Linked DNA regions of Homo sapiens. The protein of the gene in region 1 purifies or fractionates together with the protein of each later gene. This does not show direct contact. Each region holds a gene or a part of one and is shown on either strand. Other genes may lie near its edges.

The links.
Region 2: the proteins of MATN1 (region 1) and POR purify together in Homo sapiens (affinity purification with mass spectrometry; one large-scale study listed by BioGRID and IntAct). This does not show direct contact.

Annotation. Positions count from the first base shown.
Region 1 is NC_000001.11:30,713,375-30,717,186, forward strand, and holds part of MATN1 (matrilin-1 precursor), read right to left. Parts: intron 3,542-3,812; coding exon 3,416-3,541; intron 2,952-3,415; coding exon 2,535-2,951; intron 1,936-2,534; coding exon 1,783-1,935; intron 954-1,782; coding exon 873-953; intron 258-872; coding exon 208-257; 3' UTR 1-207. UniProt on the Homo sapiens protein: A major component of the extracellular matrix of non-articular cartilage. Binds to type 2 collagens and forms long concatenated protein networks as part of the extracellular matrix.
Region 2 is NC_000007.14:75,921,623-75,925,434, forward strand, and holds part of POR (NADPH--cytochrome P450 reductase), read left to right. Parts: intron 1-479; exon of another isoform or gene 480-578; intron 579-3,812. UniProt on the Homo sapiens protein: This enzyme is required for electron transfer from NADP to cytochrome P450 in microsomes. It can also provide electron transfer to heme oxygenase and cytochrome B5.

The DNA.
Region 1 (3,812 bases):
GTGCACACACACACACACACACACACATGCACACATACACACACGCACACATACACACACGAGCTCCCAAACGCCATTACACGCTCTCAATAGGCACACCCAGACACACCCCCTCCCACCCCCGGGCTGGCTTCCCTCACTAAAATGGTAAAGCTACGGCGGACACGTGCAGGACGCTTGGAGAGGCCACAGTGGTGACAGGCAGCCTTAGACAACTGTGTTCTCCAGGATGGCCAGCCGCTTACTCACAGCTTCCAGTGGACTCAGAGTTAAGGAGAGGTGCAGGTTGGCCAGAGCAGGGCAGGGATGGCTGTGGCCCTGCACTCAGGCCCCTGCAACACCCCACTACAGCGTGCATTCTCCCCTCTGTCAGAACTTATCCATCCACTGTCCTCAGAATGGTGCTTTCCAAAAAACACAGCCAGTTACTGTGAGCCACGAGTGCCCAGCCCTGCTCAGTTGCAGATTTAGACCTGCTGGGTTCCCCACCTAGTCCTGGCTGAGCCAGGGGAACTGTCTGGGGCCCAGCCCCACCTCTGAGTGGGTACTGGGGTCAGGCACGTCACCATGAGCCTGAGAAATGGGGCATCCATGGGCTCCATGTTCTTCAGAGCATGTCCAGGACTCTGGTGTGTGTCCAGTCCCTAGATCCTGGCTTCTGCCTCATTTTCTTGTTTACCTTCTAGGAGTCTCTGCTTTTGACAGGGTGTGCACCCAAGCTGGCTTCAGCTTATTCTGCCAGAATGCAGCCCATCAGCAGTAAGCAGGCCAAGAGAAGCCTGCCCAACTGACCACACTTGGGCCATGCCCCCGCCTCCCCCAACACTGGCCTGCGCCCCTCCCCAGCCCCAGCCCCCTCTGGGAAGGGATATGTTTCCTGGTCAGGGCCTGCAGCAGCCCCTCCACTTTGGCTTGGAATTTCACCAGGGACTCGCAGGCACACGGGTCTTCCTCTGCAGGGGACAAGGAGGAGGGAAAGAGAAAGGAACTGTTGAGTGGCTGCCCAGGAGGAGGGAGGACAGTCACTGCCCAGGGCCAGGACTCAGGATTCCCGGGGAGGTGAGGGGCTTAAGGGACCTGAGGAGGCAGAAAGATATAGATAGTCCTTGAGACAGCACCCTTAGGAGTGATAGAGGGGTGACCCCTGAACGTCTTCCTGGTCCCTTGGAGCCCTGAGAATGAACTAGGAGAGCATCCCTGTACCTGCTGCATGAAGAACACTAGTAGGGGCCCCTATGTCACCTCAGTGAGTTCACCTCAGCCCTTTGGGTTTGAAGTCATTAATCCCATCTTACAGGTGAAGAATCCAAGAAGTGAAAAAACTTGCCCATGGCCAACAGCGTCAGAGCAAAGACACAGGCCCAGGCACGTCTGGCTCTGAAACCCACACTCCTTACCACTAAGAACCAGCTGGTGAGGTCACCAGAGAGGACCAGAGAGGCAGTAGGGTTCAAATCTTGGCTCTCCCAGCTATTAACAGTTGTTCCACCCCTTTGGCCTTGTTTATCCCATCTATAAAATGGGGTTAATGACATTCTTACCAAATAGGATCGGATGATGTAATATCCGGAGAGCACTGAGAACACTGCCAGCCACGTAACGAGCATTCAACATGTTTGCTGGTAGTAAGAGCTGTAAGCGCCAGCCCACCTTCTGGTTCTGCCAACTCTTGGTGCCACCTCGGCCCCTGCTTTTCCCCACCCACACCCAGTTCCAGGATGGCTCCACCTCCACAGTGCCCCACCTGCAAATCCCATCAATGCCAGCCCTGGCCTCACTCACCCACACAGATCTTCTTCTGCAACTTCTTGCCTATCTGGTTGATGGTCTTGAAGTCAGCCGTGTAGAAGTAGTGCTCTGCCACAGGCTCTGAGGCTATTTCCCTCAGCTCATCCTCCACGGCATTGCCCACACCCACAGCAAACATCTTAAAGCCTGCCAGGAGGAACAGGAGAAGTAAGGCTGGACATGGGGATGGGCAACCATATGGCTGAGCCTCCTGGGGAAGGCTTAGGCAGCCAACACCAGACACCTCCTGCTGGCAGCTGCTGGAATTGCAAGCACAATGCCTGGAACAAGGACAATGAGAAAATCAATATTTACTGAGGTTCTGCTCTGTGTCAGACCCTATAGTGACTTCCTGTACTGGAAGCTTTGTACAGCAAGCTTCATTTAACCCTAATAATCATCCATCTGGTGGTTATTTTTTCCTCATTTAATAGGTTACAAAACAGACTCGGGCTTGTTCCAAAGTAGAGTTGCCTTCCAATAGTTGATGTGTTCTTGGGAATATCCAGCTGGAAAAGTTCCAAGCCTCACTTACAAAAGGACCATCAAAACAAGCCACTTACTTTTCTGGGGCCTCAATTTTGTCATTGGTATAAGAGAGAATTGGACTAACCAATCCTCCTCATTCAAACTCACCTGGGTTTAGGGCACTAATCAGACGACACCAAGATAAACTACAGTTGGGCTATACCCGTGTGTACCCCTGGCCATCAGTGGTGTCCAGGGTCCAGGCAGGCAACACCTACCGAGGTCTTTGGCCTTCTTGGCAGCATCATTAATGTAGTCCTGGCTCCGGCCATCAGTGAAGACAATGCCCACCTTCTGGGCCCCGGGCCTAGCCCCACTGGACACAGTGAAGGAATTGTCAATGAGGTACTTGAGAGCAGCCCCAGTCATTGTGCCCTTCTCCATGTAGGACATATTCCGCACAGCCGCCTTGATGTCCTTCTTGGTGTGGAAGCGACCCAGGGGGAACTCCTGGCGCACAGAGCTTGAGTACTGCACCAGCCCCACCTGGGCCAGCTTGTCTGACACGTCCAGCGTATCCACGATCTGACTGATGAACTTCTTCACCAGCTCAAAGTTCTCTGGCCTCACACTCTTGGATCCGTCAATGAGGAAGACCAGGTCAGTGGCCGAGCTGCCACCACCACCACTGCAGACTGTGGAGGACAGGAAGGCAACGGGCTGAAGCTGAAGGACATAGTCAACCATCCTGCTCCCCGGCTGGACACCCACCACACACCAAGCTCTGTGCTGAGGATCATTACATTGTGCCCTCAGAACTGCCTCTATAAAGCCAAGGTGACTGGTCCCACTGTACAGTATTGGAAACTGAAACTCCAATAGCTGTGAGATCACACAGCTCAGAAGTGGTAGCACCAGGATTTGATTTTGAGACTATGTGAGTCCTTCTACCACACTAAACCCACCGCCCATTGTGTTGAAAACAGGGACAGAAGTCAGGTGAGAACTTCTGCAGATACCAAACTCTAAAAGGCATCTGTCTGCTTTGAAGATTGGTTCAGAGGTATGGTGCAGGGAGGCTTGAATGGGTTTCCTGGGGAGGCCCCATCACCTCCCCTCCACACCCTCTCCAGGGCGAGCCTGTGTCCACCCCACTGACCATTGCAGGTCTTGCCGTCGCTGTTCAGAGTGAAGCCCTCGTGGCAGGCGCAGGTGTAGGAACCGGGGGAGCTGATGCACACCTGCTCACAGTCATGGTCCCCTGTGGCGCACAGGTCTGACACCACTGCGGGGACAATAAGTAGCTCAGATCTCACAGTCATAGTGCCTTGGGCACTACAGACAGGTTGTCCCTCCCTGACTGTGGATACCAGGCCCCATCCAGACTCAGGGAAACTAAGATCTCCAACATACTGGGGCCCAGGCCCCCGACTCTCAGCCCACGTCTGGAATCATTGCACCAGTGCCTAGATCCCTGAAGAAGGTTATAATGCTGATGATAAGAATGAAAAGTCTCACTAAAAAGGTAAAGGCCAAGGGTTAGGGCCTTTAGTCTG
Region 2 (3,812 bases), on another chromosome or scaffold:
GCTGACCCGTAATTGACCCATAATTCTCCCTCTCTTCCCCTCCCTACCACGTTCCAAGATCTGTCCATGGTACCATTGCTGGTTGATCTTGGAACCCTGCTTCGGTCACCCCTCCTTTCTCTTCGCCCAGACTGGAGTGCAGTGGCACGATTTGGCTCACTGCAACCTCCACCTGTCAGGTTCAAGTGATTCTCCTGCCTCAGCCTCCCGAGTAGCTGGCACTACAGGCACGTGCCTCCACACCTAGCTAATTTTTGTATTTCTAGTAGAGACAGGGTTTCACCATGTTGGCCAGGCCAGTCTCGAACTCCTGGCCTTAAGTGGTCCACCCAGCTCAGCCTCCCAAAGTGCTGGGATAATAGGCAGGAGCCACTGTGCCCGGTCACTGTCACTGTCTTATTGCATGTTTTCTTCTTCATCTGCTTTCATAAAGGATAAACAGTGACTTAATAAAAGGTGTCTAATTCTCCCCTCCCTAGTGGCAATACGGTTGGACTAGAAGGTGAATTCAGTTGAGAACAGGGAACCTATCATTTCTGCGAGTGTAAGCTGGGGCATAGAACAATGCCAGGCATAAGGTAGGCACTTGGATGAATGGATGAATGAATAAATATGGCTTCTGTCCCCCAAGTTTACTGCTGAGCTTTCTCCTGCATATTGACTGAGCTCAGATGTCAAAATTGGGTCTGATCTGTAGTTTTTTTTTTTTTTTTTTTTGAGACAGAGCCTGTCACTCTGTCGCCCAGGCTGGAGTGCAGTGGCGCAATCTTGGCTCACTGCAACCTCTGCCTCCTGGGTTCAAGCAATTCTCGTGCCTCAACCTCCTGAGTAGCTGGAATTATAGGTGTGTGCCATCATGCCTGGCTAATTTTTTGTAATTTTAGTACAGATGGGGTTTCACCATGTTGCCCAGCTGGTCTCGAATGCCTGACCTGAAGCAGTCTGCCCGCCTCGGCCTTCCGAAGTGCTGGGATTACAGGCGTGAGCCACTGCGCCTGGCCTGGTCTGTACTTCTGAAGATTATTCCAAAGTACAGTAGGAACTTTTGGTAGGACTTTAGTTTTCCATCCAGGTATAAAATTTTGTGTCAGTGGTGGGGTTGCGCATGTTCAGTAGCTGCAACACTAGAAAGATGGCAAAGCAGGAGCAAAGAAAAATCCCTTTGGCTCCAGAAAATCTCCTGAAAGCAGAAGGCTTATCAAGGCCTCAAAGCCACCCAGTCAAAGTAGGCACTTTTGGCAAAGGAGGAGCAGAGGGAAGGAAAAGAGCTCAGGTTTAAACGACTGGAATCATTCCTACATGATTCCTGGCGGCAGAAACATGACAAGGTGTGTCTCAGACGACTAGAAGTAAAACCTCACACCTTGGAATCGCCAGATAAACATTCCTTGGCCTTTGTTGTACGCGTCGAAAGGATTGATGGTGTGAGTTTACTGGTGCGGAGAGCCATTGCAAGACTTAAACCTAAAAATGCAGCGTATAGTATGTAACCTTATGTGACCTGGGGATTTCCAAATCTGAAGTCTGTCCAGAAACTCATTTTGAAACGTAGACAAGCCAAGGTCAAGAATAAGACCATCCCTCTGACAACACAGTGATTGAGGAGCACCTGGGAAAGCTTGGTGTCTTTTGCTTGGAAGACCTCATTCATGAAATTGCCTTCCCAAGGAAGCATTTCCAGGAGATCTCATGGTTCTTGTCCCCTTTCCACCTCTCAGTGGACTGTCATGCTACCAAAAATAGTGGACTTTCTGAAGGAGATTGGCACACCTCCATCTTCTTGGGGGTGTGTGCATCAATCAGCTCATCCGCCAGCTGAACTAGAGCCAGGTGCCAAACTACAGTAAATTTTTATCAATGAACTGGAAGCTTGTGTTATTTTTGGGGGCGGGGTGGAATTTTTATCAAGTATCTTCAGAGAAGATTATTTCCTGCTTTATCTTCAAAAACTGTAAAGGAAGGGTCAAAGGAAAGACAGTGGCTGGCCGGGCCCGGTGGCTCACGCCTATAATCCTAGCACTTTGGGAGGCTGAGGCGGGCAGATCACCTGAGGTCGGGAGTTCGAAACCAGCCTGACCAACATGGAGAAACCCCGTCTCTACTAAAAATACAAAAATTAGCTGAGCGTGGTGGCACACGCCTGTAATCCCAGCTACTGGGGAGGCTGAGGCAGGAGAATCGCTTGAACCCGGGAGGCGGAGGTTGTGGTGAGCCAAGATCAGACCTTTGTCCTCCAGCCTGGGCAACAAGAGCGAAACTCCATCTCAAAAAAAAAAAAAAAGAAAAGAAAAGACAGTAGCTTACGTTCATGGCGGCACCTCTCATCACAGTCCAGTTCCAAGGAAAAATTCCAGCGTTTTCTACGTTGGCTGCTGCCTTGTCTGAAATCACATTTTGTGGAGAAAGGAGTCTTGCTTTGTTGCATCTTCTATCCTAGGGTTTAATGTTGGTGAATGAGTAACTCTAGCATTTGTACAAGGCTCCCTAAGAGTCCTGCAGCAGTCGACCAAGCCCGGGGACATAATTGAATCCGGAGATTCCTGGGGCCTTGAAAAAGGCTTGAAATATACATAGGAAGAAAGGCACAAAAATAAATGCTCACTTGTCTCTGCAAAAAAAAAGAAAAGAAAAATTGTGTCTCAAGTTCCTTCTGTAGTTGATAATTTATTCAGTAATCATTTTATAATTGAAGAAGAATATTCTGACTCTAAATCTTTCTAGATCAGTTACCTGGATGCTGAAGACATGAATAAATTTGTTTATTTTAAAAATCCTAGGGCCTGGCACAGTGGCTCATGCTTATAATCTTAGCACTGTGGGAGGCCGAGGTGGACGGATCACTAGAGCCCAGGAATTCAAGACCATCCTGGGCCACATGGCAAAACACCATCTCTATTTAAAAATTAGTGTTTTTAAACATCAGTGTTTAAAAATTAGCTGGGTGTGGTGGTGTGTACCTGTCATCCCAACTACTTGGGAGGCTGAGGTGGGAGGATCACCTGAGCCCAGGGAGGTTGAGGCTGCAGTGAGCCATGATCAGACCACTGCACACCAACCTGGGTGATAGAGTGAGACCCCCATCTCAAAATATACAGTAATAAATGAAAAATAGAAAATTCCCCAAATAAATAAATAATAGAAAATTCTAATGAAAATAAAAGGAGTTGAGTGTAACCGTTGAGTGTCTGCGCTGGGTGTTTATGTCTCATGTAACCAACGTAGCACTGTGAGCATGGTCATCCCGGAGACGGACTGTGATAAATCGTGTGCCCAGGATCCCAGAGTGCATAGGTGGCATATCTAGGTTTTGAACCAAGGTCTGTTGGTCTTTTATAGCTCAACTGGGTTGTGAGTTTGTTGAATTTCACTTTCCATGCTTTCCCCAACCAAACCAAAAACCAGAGGGGGAACTGAAAGCTGAGAGCCTAGTAATTGAGAAAAGGACTCTGGGAGGTGATGGTGTCAAAAAGCAGTCCAGGGAAGCTCTTGTGGTTGAGCACACAGCTCTGCCCAGAGCTTCCTAGATGCCAAGGCAAAGAAGGATGGGGTTACATAGCAGTTATTGGAAAAAGGAAGCTGACCAGTTTCTCATTAGTATTTTTCAGCTGGGCGCGATGGCTCATGTCTGTAGTCCCAGCACTCTGGGAGGCTGAGGCAGGAGGATCACTTGTGGCCAGGAGTTTGAGACCAGCCTGGGCAAGAGAGAGAGAGAGAGACCCTGTCCCTTCAACAAGAAAATACACATTTAAAATATTAGCCAGGCATGGTGGTGTGCACCTGTAGTCCCAGCTACTCAAGAGGCTGAAGCAGGA